4 linked regions of the Homo sapiens genome follow. The protein of the gene in region 4 purifies or fractionates together with the protein of the main gene of each other region. This does not show direct contact. Each region holds a gene or a part of one and is shown on either strand. Other genes may lie near its edges.

What was found. Proteins that work in one complex are often made in the same cells at the same time.
Region 1: the proteins of ZNF451 (region 4) and SLF2 purify together in Homo sapiens (affinity purification with western blotting, with the first as the bait; one study listed by BioGRID). This does not show direct contact.
Region 2: the proteins of ZNF451 (region 4) and SIMC1 purify together in Homo sapiens (affinity purification with western blotting; one study listed by BioGRID and IntAct). This does not show direct contact.
Region 3: the proteins of ZNF451 (region 4) and TOP2B purify together in Homo sapiens (affinity purification with mass spectrometry; one large-scale study listed by BioGRID and IntAct). This does not show direct contact.

Annotation. Positions count from the first base shown.
Region 1 is NC_000010.11:100,943,963-100,948,474, forward strand, and holds part of SLF2 (SMC5-SMC6 complex localization factor protein 2), read left to right. Parts: intron 1-63; coding exon 64-166; intron 167-1,367; coding exon 1,368-1,544; intron 1,545-3,076; coding exon 3,077-3,174; intron 3,175-3,797; coding exon 3,798-3,885; intron 3,886-4,512. UniProt on the Homo sapiens protein: Plays a role in the DNA damage response (DDR) pathway by regulating postreplication repair of UV-damaged DNA and genomic stability maintenance.
Region 2 is NC_000005.10:176,339,424-176,343,935, reverse strand, and holds part of SIMC1 (SUMO-interacting motif-containing protein 1), read right to left. Parts: intron 1-4,512.
Region 3 is NC_000003.12:25,618,896-25,623,407, reverse strand, and holds part of TOP2B (DNA topoisomerase 2-beta), read left to right. Parts: intron 1-2,591; coding exon 2,592-2,726; intron 2,727-3,345; coding exon 3,346-3,546; intron 3,547-4,512. UniProt on the Homo sapiens protein: Key decatenating enzyme that alters DNA topology by binding to two double-stranded DNA molecules, generating a double-stranded break in one of the strands, passing the intact strand through the broken strand, and religating the broken strand.
Region 4 is NC_000006.12:57,095,873-57,101,398, forward strand, and holds part of ZNF451 (E3 SUMO-protein ligase ZNF451), read left to right. Parts: intron 1-3,188; coding exon 3,189-3,269; intron 3,270-4,730; coding exon of another isoform or gene 4,731-5,526. UniProt on the Homo sapiens protein: E3 SUMO-protein ligase; has a preference for SUMO2 and SUMO3 and facilitates UBE2I/UBC9-mediated sumoylation of target proteins. Plays a role in protein SUMO2 modification in response to stress caused by DNA damage and by proteasome inhibitors (in vitro).

The DNA.
Region 1 (4,512 bases), on a different chromosome or scaffold from region 4:
TTTCTTAAAGTGAGTTATATATTTTGTGCCTAACTTCACATTGCTTTACTCACTTCTCAATAGTTCTGAAACACAGACAACATCAAGGGGGAAAGAAAGTGAAGATTCATCTTATAAGCCAATTTTTTCAACACTTCCTGAAACCAACATTTTAAATGTGGTTAAGGTAGGAAAGAACTTTTATGTGTCTTCTGCTCAGAGCTAGAACCATTTAGTCTGTGGTTAATGGTTTTTAAAAAAAAAAAAGTCTCGGCCGGGCGCGGTGGCTCACGCCTGTAATCCCAGCACTTTGGGAGGCCAGGGCGGGCAGATCACAAGGTCAGGAGATCGAGACCATCCTGGCTAACACGGTGAAAACCCGTCTCTACTAAAAATACAAAAAATTAGCCAGGCATGGCAGCGGGTACCTGTAGTCCCAGCTATTCAGGAGGCTGAGGCAGGAGAATGGCGTGAACCCAGGAGGCGGAGCTTGCAGTGAGCCGGGATCGTGCCACTGCACTCTAGCCTGGGCAACAGAGCAAGACTCTGTCTCAAAAAAAAAAAAAAAAAAAACTCTCTAGTTTCTTACCAGGTGATTTCCAGTCTCTGAAATTTCTTAGCAATAATCTTTGTATTAAAAATTGTTTTTGCTGTTTTTATTTTGTTTTAATATTAGTGATGAACAGAACTTTAAGTCAGTTACATCATTAAATAGTTTTGAAACCAATAGTTTTTTATAAGTAGGATGTATGAAGAAAAAAGACTTACAATACAACTTAGTAATCAAGAGTTAATGGCAGAGGCCGGGCGCGGTGGCTCATGCCTGTAATCCCAGCACTTTGGGAGGCCAAGACGGGTGGATCACCTGAGGTCAGGAGCTCAAGACCAGCTTGGCCAACATGGTGAAACCCCATCTCTACTAAAAATACAAAAAAAAAATTAGTCAGGCGTGGTGGCAGGTGCCTGTTATCCCAGCTACTGGGGAGGCTGAGGCGGGAGAATCACTTGAACCCGGGAGGTGGAGGTTGCAGTAAGCCGAGATCACACCACTGTACTCCAGCCTGGGCGACAGAGTGAGACTCCGTCTCAAAAAAAAGAAGATAAAAAAAAAAAGAGTTAATGACAGTGTGAAACATTTTTAGTTGCTGAATTGAATCAGTGATACAGAACCATTAAGAAAATCTCAAAAATGGAAAATGGAGAAGAAAATGCCACTTAATTCAACTATTAACATTGAGTAGTTCTTGCCTTCTTTTCTCTAGACATCGGATGTTTGTTTTCTTTATAGTTCTTTTTTGCATCTTTTGTCAAAAAGAGTTTATAATTAAAACTCTAAAAGTAAAATATACCTCCTAAAATATTTTTGTCTGTGCATTTATGTTAAACAGTTTCTAGGCTTGTGTACATCTATACATCCAGAAGGTTACCAGGATCGTGAAATAATGTTGCTGATTTTAATGTTATTTAAAATGAGTTTGGAAAAACAGCTGAAACAGATTCCTTTAGTAGACTTTCAAAGCCTCCTGATAAACCTGATGAAAAACATCAGAGATTGGAACACAAAGGTAATGTTACTTAAAACTTCATTATTCATTTTTTATATAGCATTACAATTTGACTCATAGTGCATATGGAATTAATACTGTTTCTAAACTCAAGATCTTTGGCGGATTAAAAATGAACTGAGGAAGGGAATGTTTGCTGGAGCTGTATTATTTAAATTCGTGATAATTGAATTTTTTCTAAAACTTCAACTCTTTATCCAACAAAAATGTGTTTATTGGGGATTTCCTATGGACTAAGCATTAATGTAGGTGCTAGAGATTGAGCTGTGAAAGAGACAAAGCCTTTGCCTTCATGGGGCTTTTGTCCTAGTCAAAGGGTTAGATAAACAAGTAAATGTTGATTATATTATCATGTCAGGTAGTAGTTAAGTACTACAAATGAAAATAAAGCAGGACATGAGTACAGCAAGACCAGATGCTATGCTATTTCATATAAGGCTGGCAGGGAAAGGCCTTTCCAAAATAACCTTGGAGCAGAGACCTAAATGAAATGATGGAGTGAGTCATACCTACAACCAGAATTTGAGTTGAACTTCTGCAACCATATGGAGGATGAACATGTATAATTTTTGTTAGGCCTTTTTAAAAATTATATTTTTCAGTCTTTTTTGGTGGAAAAATTAAAATATGCAAAAGTAAGGCAAAGAGTATAATAAATTCCTAAGTATCACTTTGCTTCAATAATTGAGACATAATCTTGCCTAATGTAAAACCGACCCTATATTTCCTTTCCCTGCTCATCAGATTATTTTGAAGCAACTGTTACGCTTTTTTAAAAATTGATACACAATGGTAATACATATTTTGGGGGTGTTAGGCTTTTTTTTTTTTTTTTTTCTGTAAGACAGCATCTCCTGTCACCCAGGCAGGAGTGCAGTGGCGCAGTCTTGTCTCAGTGCAGCCTCTGCCTTCCGGATTCAGGCGATTCTCATTCCTCAACCTCCCGAGTAGATGAGACTATAGATACATGCCACTCCGCCCAGCTAATTTCTGTGTATTTAGTAGAGACAGGGTTTTACCATTTTGGCCAGGCTGGTCTCAAACTCCTGGCCTCAAGTGATTCACCTCCCTCGGCCTCCCAAAGTGCTGGGATTACAGGCTTGAGCCACCACACCTGGCCAGGTGTTAGGCTTTTAAAAATACTGGAATAGGATCCCTAAAGTGCAAGAAATCCCAAATCAGGAACATATATGGTCTTGTACAGCTCTCATACACATTTGTATTTAGATCAGTTTATCTTTCCAAGAAGGACTGTTTAAATATCAATGGGAGATATGATGTAGTACAAAACGTGAAAGCCAAGTGAAATTCTGCTAAATGTATCTGTTCAGTCCATTTAAGATAGTATAAGTAAAACTGAATCTGTGTATTGTGTACATTTTAGCAGATTCTAGACTCCATGCTATTTCTAAAAATGTGCTCTGTTTTGTACTAGTGCTTCCATTATGTCAAGAAGGGTTGTAGATGATCTGTTGGGTGTTTTATTCTACTGTTCTGTTTGAAAAGAAATCTTACATGTTCTTTTTTTTCAGGTGCCTGAACTCTGTCTGGGCATAAATGAACTCTCCAGTCATCCCCACAACCTCCTGTGGTTGGTACAGCTGGTCCCTAATTGGACATCACGTGGAAGGTATTAAAAAGTGAAAATTAAACATTAAGAAATTTTATAATTTTACATTAATGAAATGCCTTGGGTTGTTTATTTCCATTCATCATTCTTTGAATGTTAGATCAGATATGTTTATTTCATATTCAGTTGCGAGAAAAGGCATTGATAGCCTGATTCTGCCTTATTCTAATTCTTAACTCAGGTCATTATGTAATTTTTTTTTTTTTGAGACAAGAGTCTCACTCTGTCACCCAAGCTGAATATTTTTTTATTTTTAATTTTAGTTTATCTGTTACCTTAATACAGATGACATATTCCACAAAAATAAATGAATTAGCTTTTTTTTGCTTTAGTAAAAATAAATTTCATCAGTAAAAAAATAGGTTTTCTGTCAGTAAATCATCAGGGTCAAAGATAAGGCCGTTAAATGATTTATTGAGCTTCAGATAACTCAAGTTTTATGTACAGATATTTTACATGAAAATTTTACTGTTCTATAACAGCTTATATGTTCCTGTACAGACTTCTCTTGAAACATTGCCTATATTTCCAATTAGAACTAGAGCTCCTCTTGGCTCATTCATTTGCTTTTCAAGCAGTATTAATTAAAATACATTCTAAATACTTTTAACTTCTAATTCTAGGCAACTGAGACAGTGCCTCAGTCTAGTGATTATTTCAAAGCTTTTGGATGAGAAACACGAAGATGTTCCTAATGCCAGTAATCTGCAGGTATAAATAAATACATTTTTATTTTTAATAAATGGGAGAGGTAATGAGAGGTGTAAGGAAAATTGATGAACCCTAAGTCAAAGGTCCTGGGGTCAGAGCTCAGCTCTTAAGCTTGATACTGTTCATGTAATCTCTAGCACACTTAACTAACAAGATCCAATTTTTTCATCTGTGAAATGGAGATAATATTGCACCCTCCACCACTTAGGGTGGTTGTGGACAATCAGATGTGAATTAATGTATAAAGAAACTACTGGGAAAATCATAATGTGCAATTATATGAATATGATTTCATTTATTGAATTAGTTCAGCTTTTCCAAGTTAGCAATTTTATCACAAGATTAGAAATTGCAAAACCCTTGTACATTGATTGCATCTTTAACCTGTTTTAAAATGAGTCTTTTTAGATCATAGAGCTTAAATGTAGTTGCCCTCTAGTACTTGTTCAGTAAGAATATATCATGTATATATGAGAGTGTGGATAAACATGTCCAGCTGTTGCTGGGTACTGGTGGCACACACCTATCGTCCCAGCTACTTGGGAGGCTGAGGCCAGAGGATCCTTTGAATCCAGGAGTTCAAGTCCAACCTAAGCAACATAGGGAGACCTTGTCTTTAATATATAT
Region 2 (4,512 bases), on a different chromosome or scaffold from region 4:
GTAATCCCAGCTACTCGGAAGCCTGAGGGTGGGAGAATTGCTTGAACCCGGGAGGTGGAGGTTGTAGTGAGCCAAGATCACACCACTGCACTCCAGCCTGGACGACAGAGCTAGACTCCGTCTCAAAAAAAACAAAACAAAACAAAACAAAAAAACAAAAAAAGAAAAGTTTCGTGAGTGTGATAATGCACAGTGGTATGAAGTACAATATCCTTACGCTTAGGAGATACATGCTGAACATGCTGAAGTACTTAAGCAATACAATTATGATGGCGCACTTATCAACTGTTTCAGAAAAAATGGTATATACATGGATCAATAGGTAAACCAAATGTGTCAAAATCTTAGAAGCTAATGAATCAGCGTAAACGGTATATATATGGGCATTCGTTATACTATTCTTTCTACTTTTCCGTAGGTCTAAAAATGAAAATAGGAAAACAAAAAGTTATAAAGGTATCTCATCCCAAATCTACAGGCCAGCCCCAATAGATTCTAGAAGTGTGTGGAATTGAGGCAAATGAGCAGAAGGTCACATTAGGCAAATGTATTGAGAGAGTTCTGGGGACTTGAAGACTTCCAGTTGCACATAAGTACACCATCATTTCTCAGTCTCCTCATTTATCAAACGGGGATGATGGCACTTTCACTAACAGTTATTAAAAGGACTGAGCTACACTGTATCCAGATTTAGGACACAGAACAAATCATTTTAAGTGGTATATCAGGTTACATTTTAAGCGGTTTATCAGGTTACATTTTCAAGTAATACATTCAATATGTTTTTTCTCAACCTTCAGATAAAATGATGGAAAAGCAAAATCTCTCAAAACTAAAGTCTGTAATCTGTGAAGAAGTACAGTAAGTATACAACAGCATGTTCAAAAAGTCTGGAAACACAGGAAACAAAGCTGCCTTGAGATGGAAGTGCAAGGCCCTTTCAACCTTCAAACAGCACACATTTACTGAGCACCTACTGCATATCAGGAACTGGCTAGAGTCTGGGGACACAGTGGAATTTAGAGCCTTGGGCCCAGTCCTTGTGGACTGATATTCTAGTTGCAGGAAGCCTGATGATAAGTTAGTCAACAATATTGATTATAGTTTGTGGCAAATGCAATCAAATAAATAAATCAGATGCTGTGATAAACAGTAACACTGAGGGGAATAAGGGAAGCAGCCCACTCTAGCCACGGAGGGTCTGTGAGCTGAGTATTGACGGATGAGGAGGCAACCATGCAAAGGTCAAAGGGAAAAGCAGTCCATGGAGAACAGCAATAGCAAATGTCCTGAGGAAAAGCATGCTTAGAGAACAAGACAGAAAATCAGGGTAGGAAGCCTTCTGCCGTGGTAAGACGCAGCAAGAAGTCCTTCCCGGGTGCAGCCCCTCGACCTTGGACTTCCCAGCCTCTGGAACTGGGTGGAAGCACTGGGGATGCATATACCACGTTAATGGCATCCATGGAAGGCAATGAAAATTACATTTGATACTTAAAGTGTTTCAGCTAACATAAGGTAATGACTTTATAAATCGAGAAACTTAAAAAAATCAGAGTAATAAAAGGGAGACAAGTACTAGATGAGATTGGAAGGTAGGGTAGGCCACATTATAATGTGGAGTTTGGCCTTTGAGAGCAAACAGGGTATCTATAGACTTAGAGGGTTGTAAATAGGGAAATATGAGCTGTTTTATTTGAGACTAGTTAGGAATTGTCTTAGGAAGAGCCTTTTTGTAGACTTTGATTTTCTTAAGGCATGTGCCACTCTGAAAAATACAAAAATGATTTTGAAAGAAGTGGAAAAAAAGTTGACTGAATAGGGTGGGACAGGGGAAACTTAGAGGGCAAGCAAGAAGAATGTGGAGTTTATTAAATCATGCAGGAAAGTTAAAGAAGCAAATGTTAGCAGTGCCCATCTCAGCACTGTCTATGGGGGAGGAAACCCTGGCCAGTGGACTTCAGCCCTGCTGGTCTAGTCAACAAGGCCTTGGATTTTATGCTTCGGTAGGGATAAGAGTTGTTATGTCAGAGGTTGCTGATTACTGTATGAGGACATTTAGCATTGAAAAGGGTTTGAGCCATAATGCCTGGCTCAAGATATTTCAGCTGATAGTATTGTTAGTAGTTTTGGATCAATACAAGAGTTAATTATTATTTCATCATCATCATCATCATCATCATCATCACTATAGGAATCTCCTACCTAATATGTCAAACCTGAGCTCTTCATCTTCTTTGCAGATCTTTCTCCATATCAGTAATGGCAGAACCCTGGGAGTCACCCTTCAGACTCAGTCACTTAAGAGCCCTGTCAAAGTTATCTTCAAAGTGCTTCTGTCCCATCCACTGCCTTCTCCACTGTCCTTCTGTCCTTGCCACACCCTTGTCACCATTACCCCTCCCCTGGCCCCTCTGGCCCTCTGCCAAATGATTCGCTACACATCAGGTAGAGCAGCCTTTAAATTTGCAGATCTGATCATGACACTCCCTTACTTGGAACCAACCACTTTGATGGCTTCACTCTGTTATTAGAACCAGCTGAATTTCCTTAGCATGGCCAAGATGGCCCTTCACAACCTCCTCCATGGACTATTCTAGTCTCATTTAGTGTTATTCTCCCCTTACTCACTACATCCTTGCCCTGCTAGCTTGTTCTATGTTCCTTGGACTCACTAAGCATCTTTTTGCCTCAAGGCCCTTGGACATTCAGTGCCTTCTTTCTGGAAAACTCTTGTCTCCCCATTTGCCTGGCTAACACCATTACTTCATGTCTTTTATTTATTTCTTTTTGAGATGGAGTCTTGCTCTGCTGCCCAGGCTGGAGTGCAGTGGCACGATCTCAGCTCACTGCAACCTCTGCCTCCCGGGTTCAACCAATTCTCCTGCCTCAGCCTCCCAAGCAGCTGGGATTACAGGCACCCACCACCACGCCTGGCTAATTTTTGTATTTTTAGTAGAGATGGGGATCTGCCATGTTGGCCAGGCTGGTCTTGAACTCCTGACCTCAGGTGATCCATCCACCTCAGCATCCCAAAGTGTTAGGATTACAGGGGTGAGCCCTTGCGCCCCGCCTACTTAATGTCTTAGATGAGGTATCACTTCTTCAGGGAGGCCTTCCTGGATCCCTCCAAAAATAGATTTTGTGCACTTGTACTTCCTTCATAGCATTTACTCTATGTAACTATAGGTTACTTGTATCATTATTCATTTAGGATCAATCTCTCCACTAAACAGTAAGCTCTGTGAGGGCAGATGCCATGCTGGTCTTATTCATTAAGGTTTTCCCAGTGAGCACAGAGGACAGAGAGGACATTCAGTAGATATCTGTTGCCTGGATAAATATATGAATTGAACTGATCCTACCTGCTTCTGCTTTTCCCCGTCCGTGGACAGGGCTCCTTGCAGGGAGACCGTGTGTGTGACTGGCCTCAGAATGACTGTGACTGACTTCTGCAAGCTATGCTGGCCAGATAAGCAGGATTCAGGAAAAGCATGCATTTGTTCATTGAAATATTATATGTTCAAATCCCTAGAATTCATACTCATAAACTCCATGACAGGCAGCACTTTGTAATTTTGCTGAGGCTGAAACTTGAGCCACATGGCTATGCAACTGGGGTGGGGGGGATTGATTCTCTCGGCCAAAGAACAAGAACATGAGCTCAATTGACAGCCCAGAATCCGTGTCTCTGACAGACCTGTTTGAATCCTAGCTCTGCATTTGCTTTTCTCTCAGCCTTTGTTTTCCCATCTATAACAGGGGGTGATACCTTCACAAGGTTTTTGGATTATATAAACCAGTGCAGGTGAATTTACCTAATCTCTTTTCCTTTCTTCCTCCATGCTGAGAGTTCCCCTAAACAAAAGGAAAGCTTGGGCTCTCTAATCCCTTCCCTTCTTCTCCCACTCTTGCAGCTAGACAACTAGTGGAGCTAGACAACTCAGACTGATCTCAAAATGCCCTCAACAACATCCACAGACCACTCGCAGAAGGCAGAGATGAGACGAAGGGCCCTCACAGTAAGATGCTTACTGACTGACAAGGACGCTGACTATTGCTGGGTACCATTCGGCTGTGTTCTTTGCAGGACAATGTTTTCAAACTACTAGTGCTAATTTTCCTCCTTCCTAACTCTTGGACCCCAAAGAAGCTGGAACAAACATTTAAGGATAAAACAGCACTGCAACACACCCCATTTATTCTTGGTCAATATATACTGGTTTGAGGCCTTTCTCTCTCTTATCAAAACATAAAAAATATTCTGTAATAAAAGTAGATTCCGTTTCCACCTTAAGTCATTATTGCCCATGATAGGTGTATTCCCCGGGAATCAAAATAGAAAGGAACAAGAAATGTTAAAGGTGAACTTTAAAACAAGCTGTTAATATTAACCTTTCTGGTAATCTCCAAAACAATTACATAAGCCTCACTGAGGGTAAGAACACATGGAACTTGCCTTCGGGTCTTTGTTTGGAGAAGGACATGCACCTTTCTTTGAGGGTGCTACAAATG
Region 3 (4,512 bases), on a different chromosome or scaffold from region 4:
AGACCGTAAAGACCTAATTAGGGTATAATTTGATATGTGCCTACAGTAAAAAGTATAAACTTTGGAATGAGTTTTGGAGGTAAGTTTCATGGGGAGAAACTGTTTATTTAAATTTAGAAACACCTCATATTCCAGGTTTTCAAACCTCTAAACCCTATATTATTAGAAAACAATCCTTTTCTGATAAAATTATGTGTAACCTTGTTTCTGTTCTCAAACTACCGCTTAATAGTTTGTAAGGATGCTTAAAAACACATTGTATTCATTAGTGTACCATTTGTAAAAAGACAGAAAACAAACTACCTTGTATATATTTTAATATATCCCCAAGGCTGGGCGTGGTGGCTCACACCTGTAATTCCAGCACTTTGGGAGGCCAAGGCATATGGATCACCTGAGGTCAGGAGTTCGAGACCAGACTGACCAACATGGGGAAACTCCATCTCTACTAAATATACAAAAAAAATTAGGTGTTGCTCAGGCTCACGCCTGTAATCCCAGCACTTTGGAGGCCGAGGTGGGTGGATCACCTGAGGTCAGGAGTTCTAGGCCAGCCTGACCAAACCAGGTAGAACCCTGTCTCTACTAAAAATACAAAAATTAGCCGGGTGTGCTGGAGGGCACCTGTAATCCCAGCTACTTGGGAGGCAGAGGCAGGAGAATCGCTTGAACCCAGGAGGTGGAGGTTGCGGTGAGCCGAGATTGCGCCACTGTACTCCAGCTTGGGGAACAGAATGAGACTCCGTCTCCCAAAAAAAAAAAAAAAAATCCCCATTTTTTTTTTATGTTTGTTGTTTTCTTGTATCATTCACTCTGCTCAGACCTCCTCCAAGAAAAATGTCCTTCCTTCCTCCCCATGATTTAAAATTACCTGGAGAAAAGTGTATTTTTATTACCAAAATGATAATGTTTATTGTAGAAAATATAGGTAAGCAAAGAGTAAAAAAATCCATAAACCCACAATATAGAGACAATATTTTGATGTATTTTTCCAAGTTTTATTTCATTTTTGTATTTTAAAGTGAAAGTTATTCTTTAGCAATAAGACATATATTCTGCTTTTTCTCTTAAATACTTCAAAGTACTTCAAAATATTTCTAACATAAGCATCAAATTTTTAATGATAGTGTTTTACTGAAATGGTTTTGGATTTTTAAATGGATTTTAGATTGTTAAGATAGTGTATTTGATCAATACATGGTTCTTATGTGCCTACTATGTGTATGAAACTGTGCTAAGTGGTGAGATAAAGAGCTATGGTTTTTATCTTTGAAAAGTTAAACAGTTGTCAAGACAAGACATCAAAGCATCAAGGCTTGAAGTTTAACAGTGACAAACGATATTGATAGTTGCTTGGTATGCCAGAAGAAATGTCCTATGCTATATGCTCAATTTCTTTCTTTCTTTTTTTTTTTTTCTGAGACAGAGTCTCACTCTGTCACCCAGGCTGGAGTACAGTGGTGTGATCTTGGGTCACTGCAACCTCTGTCTCCCAGGTTCAAGTGATTCTGCTGTCTCAGCCTCCTGAGTAGATGGGGCCACAGGTGTGCGCCACCATGCCTGTCTAATTTTTGTATTTTTAGTAGAGACGGGGTTTCACTGTGTTGGCCAGGCTGGTCTCGAACTCCTGGCCTCAAGTGATCCGCCTGCTTTGGCCTCCCAAAGTGCTGGGATTACAGGCATGAGCCACTGTGCCCGGCCTATATACTCGATTTCTTAATGATAATAACGAATAAGAATTTTAGAGTAGGCCAGGTGCAGTGACTCATGTCTATAATCCCAGCACTTTGGGAGGCTGAGCTGGGCAGATCACTAGCTCAGGAGTTGAAGACCAGCCTGGGCAACATGGCAAAACCCTGTCTCTACAAAAATACAAAAATTAGCTGGACATGGTGGCACGCATCTGTAACCCCAGCTACTTGGGAGGCTGAGGTGGGAGGATCCTTTGAGCCCAGGTGGTTGAGGCTGCAGTGAGCTGATATCGTGCCACGGCACTCCAGCCTGGGTGACAAAGTGGAGACCCTGTCTCAAAACAAATAAAAACTTAGAAGAGGGAGAGAGGACTTGTAATTCAGTTGGGAAGGATGAGTAAGATTTATGTAGATGAATGATGAATGGAATGGGGTTGGGCCTGAATATGTGTCAGGACTTGTGGATAGAGTGAAAGTGAGAATATTCAAAATAGTCAAACAAAATATGGGAGAAGAGTAGTGGTTTTGTAAGACAAATCATTAGAGAAAAAATTGAAAGCCAGATTGGGTCCAGACTATGAAATGCTTTCAATGTAAGGCCCAAGGAGTTTGAATTTAAAGGATATTGATCTAGGAGAGAAGTAGGTGTAGGGGAAGTAGGCTGAAAGAAAGTACTGTTCTAGGAAGACTAGGAAAGATGATACTAACATTTTGAGATTGGAGGATGTTCAGGTTGTATGAACAGAAGCTATGAATTCAAGCTTAATTGATCAGTTGGAAAGGGACAATTGAGGATGAGAAATTCTGTTTCAGTTGTGTTAATCTGTCAATGTTAGACCATAGACTCATGGTACTGGTACTCAAGAGAGAAGTCAATGCTATTTACCTTTTTCTCTACAGCTTCCAAACTACAAAAACTTTAAAGGCACGATTCAAGAACTTGGTCAAAACCAGTATGCAGTCAGTGGTGAAATATTTGTAGTGGACAGAAACACAGTAGAAATTACAGAGCTTCCAGTTAGAACTTGGACACAGGTCAGTGTAAATATGTGATCTGCCTGAGGGAAGGGCAGTGTATTAAGCAATTTTTTCTGGTAAGGATGATTCCACCGTTGTTGGTCCTAAGCGTGCGTAGTGTTAAAAAATTCCTGTACCTTCTTTTACCCTTCAGTTGAATTTGTGCTTTGAATATTTAAATAGTATTTATATCTAAGTAGCGTAGTATGACTTATGTTAGGTAAGGCTTTTATAGACTATTATCTTTGTATTTATTTAAAATAAAAGGAGTAGAATATGACAGTGTTTTTAATTCTTGTAAATATGGTCAGTAAATTCATGTCAGCATCAGCTTTACAAATCTAAAAGTATGCATGTCACCTCTTGACAGTTCCAGTTGATGTCATCCTTTTCATACTCAGCCTTTATCTTGCCCTTTAGAGTATGAGTGGGTCAGCACCATTACTTCTTATGTCTTTTCCCACCACCGAGATCCCTGTGTATTGCCTTCTATACTGATTGGATAGGAGATGATAGAGATTGAGGTTTCCTTTTTAATTCCCCATGAGAGTTGAGAATTTTCAAGACTGTATGACTTGTAGTATGAGAACATGAGAGTGTGTCATGAAAAGAATCACTAATTTTTAAATCTTTATAGGTATATAAAGAACAGGTTTTAGAACCTATGCTAAATGGAACAGATAAAACACCAGCATTAATTTCTGATTATAAAGAATATCATACTGACACAACTGTGAAATTTGTGGTGAAAATGACTGAAGAGAAACTAGCACAAGCAGAAGCTGCTGGACTGCATAAAGTTTTTAAACTTCAAACTACTCTTACTTGTAATTCCATGGTAATTTATTAGATTTACTGTTAATTTAATCTTTCTTGCATGGTATAAGTCGGATTATTATAATTGGTTTCATGATGGGAGTGGCTATAGTAAGCCTGAAGGCATTTTTTTTTTTTTTTTTTTCCCATCCTGCAGATTTGCTGAAGATTCTAGGGGCACATTTCTTTCTTCTAGTATTGTCCACTACCCTTATTCTCAACTCTGTGTTTATGCATCTGGGCTTGAAAACACAGGATACACACATCTTCACACACATTGACTAAAAGTTATGAGAGTGGTTATTGCAGGGCCTTTGTGTACTTTATGGCCATCTCTATTAGCATTTTAACTGTAGAGTACTCATAACTCTAATCTGCTTTATTAAACTTGCACATTTATCTTTATTTATACAACTGGGGAGGAAGGTAGAAACTTTAAGTGTGTGATTCAAGTTCCATTCCAAATTAGCTTTTAGATCTAAAAAAGTAAAAAAAGTTCAGCAGTAGTACAGTGGCTGAGAAAAAGTGCCATAATCCGCTGAGAAAGGCTGATGGAAGAAAGAAAAAGGATAGAGAGGAGTTTGGGTGACTGGATTATAGCACAAGTAAATGTGAAAGCGAGAGAAAGGGGACAAATGCGTATACACAGAATATATGGGGGAGGAAAAACTTGAACATTTTTAAACTTAGCAATAGAATATGTATGTTTTCAGTTTGGGGAAAAATCATTTTTGTAGGTGGTTTTATGGTTACTTTAAGAGCCCTTTTTTTAAGGCCTATTTTTGTCTTTCAATATTATTCCTAAATACTTTTGTTGTGAGAATTGAATTTATTGGCTTGCAGTCACCAAAGAAATATTTACAGAAATGTGCTTAATAGTCTTAGTTCTGTTTAATGGTTTTTAGGGGTAGTCTGTGTTCACACACATGCATTATGGTTATATATTATGGTTATTTTAAGTATTGTAGATGTTATATAAGTTAAAATA
Region 4 (5,526 bases):
GAGTGCACTGGCGTGATCTCAGCTCTCTGCAACTTCTGCCTCCTGGGCTAAAGCGATTCTTGTTCTTCGGCCTCCTGAGTAGCTGGGATTACAGATGTACACCACCACGCCCAGCTAATTTTTGTATTTTTAATAGAGACAGAGTTTTGCCATGTTGGCCCAGATGGTCTCGAACTCATGGCCTCATGTGGTCCACCTGCCTTGGCCTCCCAAAGTGCTGAGATTACAGGCATGAGCCATCCTGCCTGCAGCTATTTTTAAATTATGTTTTTGATCATTTTCTTTCTTCCTTTCTTTCTTTCTGTTTTTTTTTTTTTTTTTTTTTTTTTGAGATGGAGTTTCGCTCTTGTCACCCAGGCTGGAGTGCAGTGGGACAGTCTTGGCTCACTGCAACCTCTGCCTCCCGGGTTCAAGCAATTCTCCTGCCTCAGTCTCCTGAGTAGCTGGAATTAGAGGCGCCCACCACCATGCCTGGCTAATTTTTTGTATTTTTAGTGGAGACAGGGTTTTACCATGTTGGCCAGGCTGGTCTCAAATTCCTGACCTCAGGCAATTCGCCCACCTTGGTCTCCCAAAGTGCTGGGATTACAGGCATGAGCCACCGTGCCCAGCCTGTTTATCTTATTTTTTTCCAGCCCATTTTACTTTTTACCTTGCATCCTGTCATCTTTCATCTTCTTCTTTACTTTCTGTGCATGGGAACTCTGCCTCTGTGTATTTCTGGTTACCGGGGCGGGGGGGTAGGGGGGCGCTTTTGTGTTCTGCTATTTCTGTGGACCTATAATGAAGGTTCCTAATGCATATTTCTTGTAGAGAGCAAAGTAAGATGATTATATCAATGGGAAAAGCTATCATTTTAATTTTTCTTCTTGGATCGAACATACAATTTTCAGTCTTTTTTTTTTTTTTTTTTTTTTTTTTGTGACAGAGTCTTGCTCTGTTGCCCAGGCTGGAGTGCAGTGGCACCATCTCAGCTCACTGCAGCCTCTGCCTCCTGGGTTCAAGCAATTCATCTGCCTCAGCCTCCTGGGTAGCTGGGACTACAGGTGCCCGCCACTACACCCTATTCCTATTTTTAGTGGAGACAGGGTTTCACCATGTTGGCCAGGCTGGTCTTGAACTCCTGACCTCAAGTCATCTACCCACCTCTGCCTCCCAAGGTGCTGGAATTACAGGTGTGAGCCACCGTGCATGGCCTACATTCTTCATACCAGATGTAGATTTTAAAGTAGGTGATTCAGCTCTGTTTACCATATATTGGAGAGTATTGCTTCCTCTGTTTCTTTAATTTTTACTTCCGTGTTTATAGTTTGAGCAAAAATCTCAATTCCTTTGCTACAGATCCCTGCCCAGTTTTGCCCTCTTGTTTTATCTTGGTATCTGAATTAGTACCCAAAAGATGGCAGTTTCTTGGTTGAGCAGAAGTCATAGCCTAGGGGAGAAAGAAGCTATCTTTGAGACTGGATGCCTATTCTAGGGAAGATCATTACCTAGATCTCAGCTTCTGTCTCCAGCAGTCAACTTTCTACATCCTACAAAATCCTTTCCTCAGCTATTATTTCTTCTGTGTTCCTTTCTTTTGTTTCCAACATACTGGATTTCTCAAAAGAATATGGCCTTTTCTACTGCATTCTCTAGTGTTTTAGAGCCTGGCTTCTGTGCTCACTACTTTCTTGAAAGTTGCTCTCTCAAAGACATTTAAAAATGTCTGGTTGCCACATTCAGTGGCATTTTATTGTTGCCGTGTTTCTGGCCACATTTAACACTGACAGCTTTTTATTGAGGCAATATGATAGTTCAGTTTAGTTCTAGAGTTTAATAGTCTTCTAGGGGAGCAACTCTCAAGTCTTTATTTCCAGGTATGTTCATACTTCCCAGATTACAGGCCTGCATTTCCAGCTGTCTGCTAGATACACCCTGTGTACCACTGTTACTTCAGCCCATAGGAATGTCAGCTTTCTGTTTCTGCTTTCCAAAGTTATACTATTGGCATTACTATTCTTATAGTCACCTGAGGTTAAAAACTTAGAGATCACTGACTCCTTGTTTTGTTTTTTAAATAATCTTTTAAATTTATTTTTATTTATATATTTATTATTATTATTATTATTATTATTGGGATAGTCTTGCTCTGTTGCCCGGGCTGGAGTGCAGTGGCGTGATCTTGGCTCACTGCAACTGCTGCCTCCCAGGTTCAAGCAATTCTCCAGCCTCAGCCTCCTGAGTAGCTGGGACTACAGGCACGCACCACCATGCCTGGCTAATTTGTACATTTTTAGTAGAGATGGAGTTTTACCATGTTGGTCAGGCTGGTCTCGAACTCCAGCCTGGCCAACATGGTAAAACCCCATCTGTACTAAAAGTACACAAATTAGCCAGGCATGGTTCTAACCTCAGGTGATCCCCCACCTTGGCCTCCCAAAGTGGTGGGATTACAGACATGAGCCACCACACCTGGCCTAATAATCAATCTCTTTTAGTTTTCCATTTTACTTGTATTCTCTTGTATATCCACTACCATACTCTTCTTGCCATCACCACCATTAGTTCTGCATTGTCATGTGCCTATACTGATTATCTTGCTTTCCCTGCTCTCCATACTCCTCTATGTGATTGATCTTGAAGCACAGTTCTCATGTTATTGTCTTATTATTATTTTTTATTTTCTTTTGCCTATTGAATAAAATCTAGGCTTTTAAGCCTGACATTCAAGGCCTGGTTGATGAAGAAATTGGCATGGATGGAAAGAAAGAATGGAAAAGAATTCAGGTTTGATGCTTGACTCTGCAGTGGTGGATGATGAAGCTGAGCTATAAGTCAATTCATTTTTGAACTTGGATATATTAACAGACTTTTGATACCAATTCTAGGTGTAAAGCACTGGATTATAATATTTGTGTCTTTGTAGCACTGTTCTTATATTAATTTTCCTTTCCCAAGTAATTGACATGGCCCTAATATTCTACAGGGGTGTAGGTGCTTCCTTTTAGGTCTTGTCATCATTTTACATTTATATATTTTGAATATTTTCCTCTGCTGCTTTTGTTCTGGTTATTTTCTGCTACCCACAAAGCTCCCTCTTCAGAGTAATTCTTGCCAGTCCCAACCAAAAAAAACACTGTAGGTTTAAATGCTAATTTGGTTTGAATAACTGTTAATGACTTCTAAATTTGCTTGATTGTTTATAGGAAGGACCATTACGACCTGTTCTTGAATACATTGATCTGGTCAGCAGTGATGATGAAGAGCCTAGCACCTCTTATACTGATGTAAGTACATTATATTTGATTTGTGTTTCTTCACTTGTGTCTTTTAAGAGGTATTCTCTAAAGAGAGTTACCAAATCAGGGAAGGCTGTGTTTAGAAATAGCCAGTTCTATTAGAATGGGCTAAAATAGGTAGTCCAAGGAGTCCTTTGCCCAGATCTCCTACTTCCAGTTTTTTTCCTCTACTTTGAATGAGATTATGAAAAAAATGATAATATGACTCTGGGAAATTCAGAGCCTTAGAGGTGATATCTGATAAAATGGAAATGGAATAAAAACTGCAAGCTTATTGATTCCTCTTTCCCTTCTCTTTTCCTTTACTCTCCTCAGGTGCCCTATACAACAGGATTCTTTTGTTCCAGAACCACATGACCACAGAAAATTTGTTTTCTCTTAGAAAAAAGGATATGTAGAGATCCTTTTAGGAATGGAAAGTGGGGGAAGGGTTTATAGGGGATATATTACTTCAGTCATCATCCCTTTAACCTTGTCTGTGCCCCACATATTTGGAGTTATTTATCTTACCTGTGATGTACTGGTTGTAGGTTTGACCCTTGGACCAATACTTCCCTTGCTCTGAGAATTGAACTAGTTGAGCCCTTTGTAACAGTCTTGCCTTTCATTTGTCCTTGCTTTAGCCCAAACTTCTGTTAATGAGCTGTTTTCATCTTGGATTAGAAAACTCTTAGTTATTGTTCAGAGTGGCCACAAACTTCTTGCTCTGTGATATAGGGGATTGAGACTTGGACTTGGAATCAGAATACCTGGGTTTGAGTCCCAGCTTTACTCTTTACAAATTCTGTGACTTTGGATAAATTAAGTAACCTTTTAGCCTCCGTTTTTTAATCAAATAATACCTACCTCACAGGGTTGTTGTGAGGATGAAATGAGGTAACAAATTATAACTTCTTATAACTACAAACCATAAAGTAGGACTATACAACTGGGAAGTTTTGTTATTCGTGGACAGTGAATGACAGAATTTTCAGAGGTGCCTAAAATGACTCTAATGGGGGAGTTTTAGATTTTTTTTCTTCTCAGTGGAACTTTCCTTAAGTTCTCTTTGCCATCATTAGCTTCTTGCATATCTTGAGTAGAACTTAACATATCTTGAATGGGATATTTTTTTCTTTTATTCTTATGAGTGGTCTCACACAGGACCAAACAGCAGGCCAGCATAGCACCACGTGATCTGAGCTTGTTTTTACTCTCTCCTTTTTCATAAACAGAGTCCCAGATTAATGCCAGTAGTTGATTTTGGGTCTTTGGGGTAGTGAAGCTTGTGGATTTGACTTCTCTGATTCCTTTTGCTGACCTTGAGTGGATTGTATCTTTCACTGTTAATTATAATAATTTAAAAATTGAGTTCTACTTACTGGACATGAATCTCTGCACTTGAAAGTTAACATATTAAAAGCATATTTTTTTTCTTCCTTGGTTTTCTTGTTCATGTGGATAACCCAGAGAATGCCTGAATCTAAGGTGCCATCCTCTGAGAATCATCGCCCAGAAATGTGCTCTAGCTGCAATGTTCCTCTTCCCATTGGAGATAGCAGCTCCTTCTCTGGGAGTTGTTCCAGCAGTCCAGAAAGGATAGTTTCTCAAACTTCCTCTGTTGAGAACCCATTGGAGAACCAGAAAAATGATCAAAATAATTCAGATACTAAGATCTCTGAGACAGAGACCCTTAAATCATCACAGAATTTTCAGACTCTGCCTTCATCTCCACTTCTGGTCCCCCAAGAATCTTTGGCCTCTTCTGAGGTCAAAGAGAATTTACGTATAGATTCTTCTTCAGCTTCACAGCATGGACGGGATGCCATCCTCTATCTCCAGACACAAGTAGCTGAAATGTCCCGAGTGATACGTGATCTGCAGTCCAGGAGCTGTTTTAGATTTCATCATTCTAGGCCAAGTGAGAACTCCTCAGTTCCTTGGGACATCTCCACCTCTAAAGAGGAAAATTTATCCACAGTTGAAGAAGAAACTGATTACAAATCACCATCAGCTGATGACAAAGGGCAGCCATCTGACCCCAGCCAATCTAGTTTCACAGGTCTTTTGAAGAGAATGGAACAAAGAGGTGTTATAAAAAGGGTGACATTACAATCTGAAGCGGAGTCATGTGAAGGGAAACCTGATTGTGTGACTTCTAAAAAACGTTTGGTTCCTCCATTGCATCCTCTTCTGAGAATTGCCACCACTGAGGTTTTTAAAGACCCTGCTGATTGCCATCCTTCTTCCTTCATGGGACACAGGG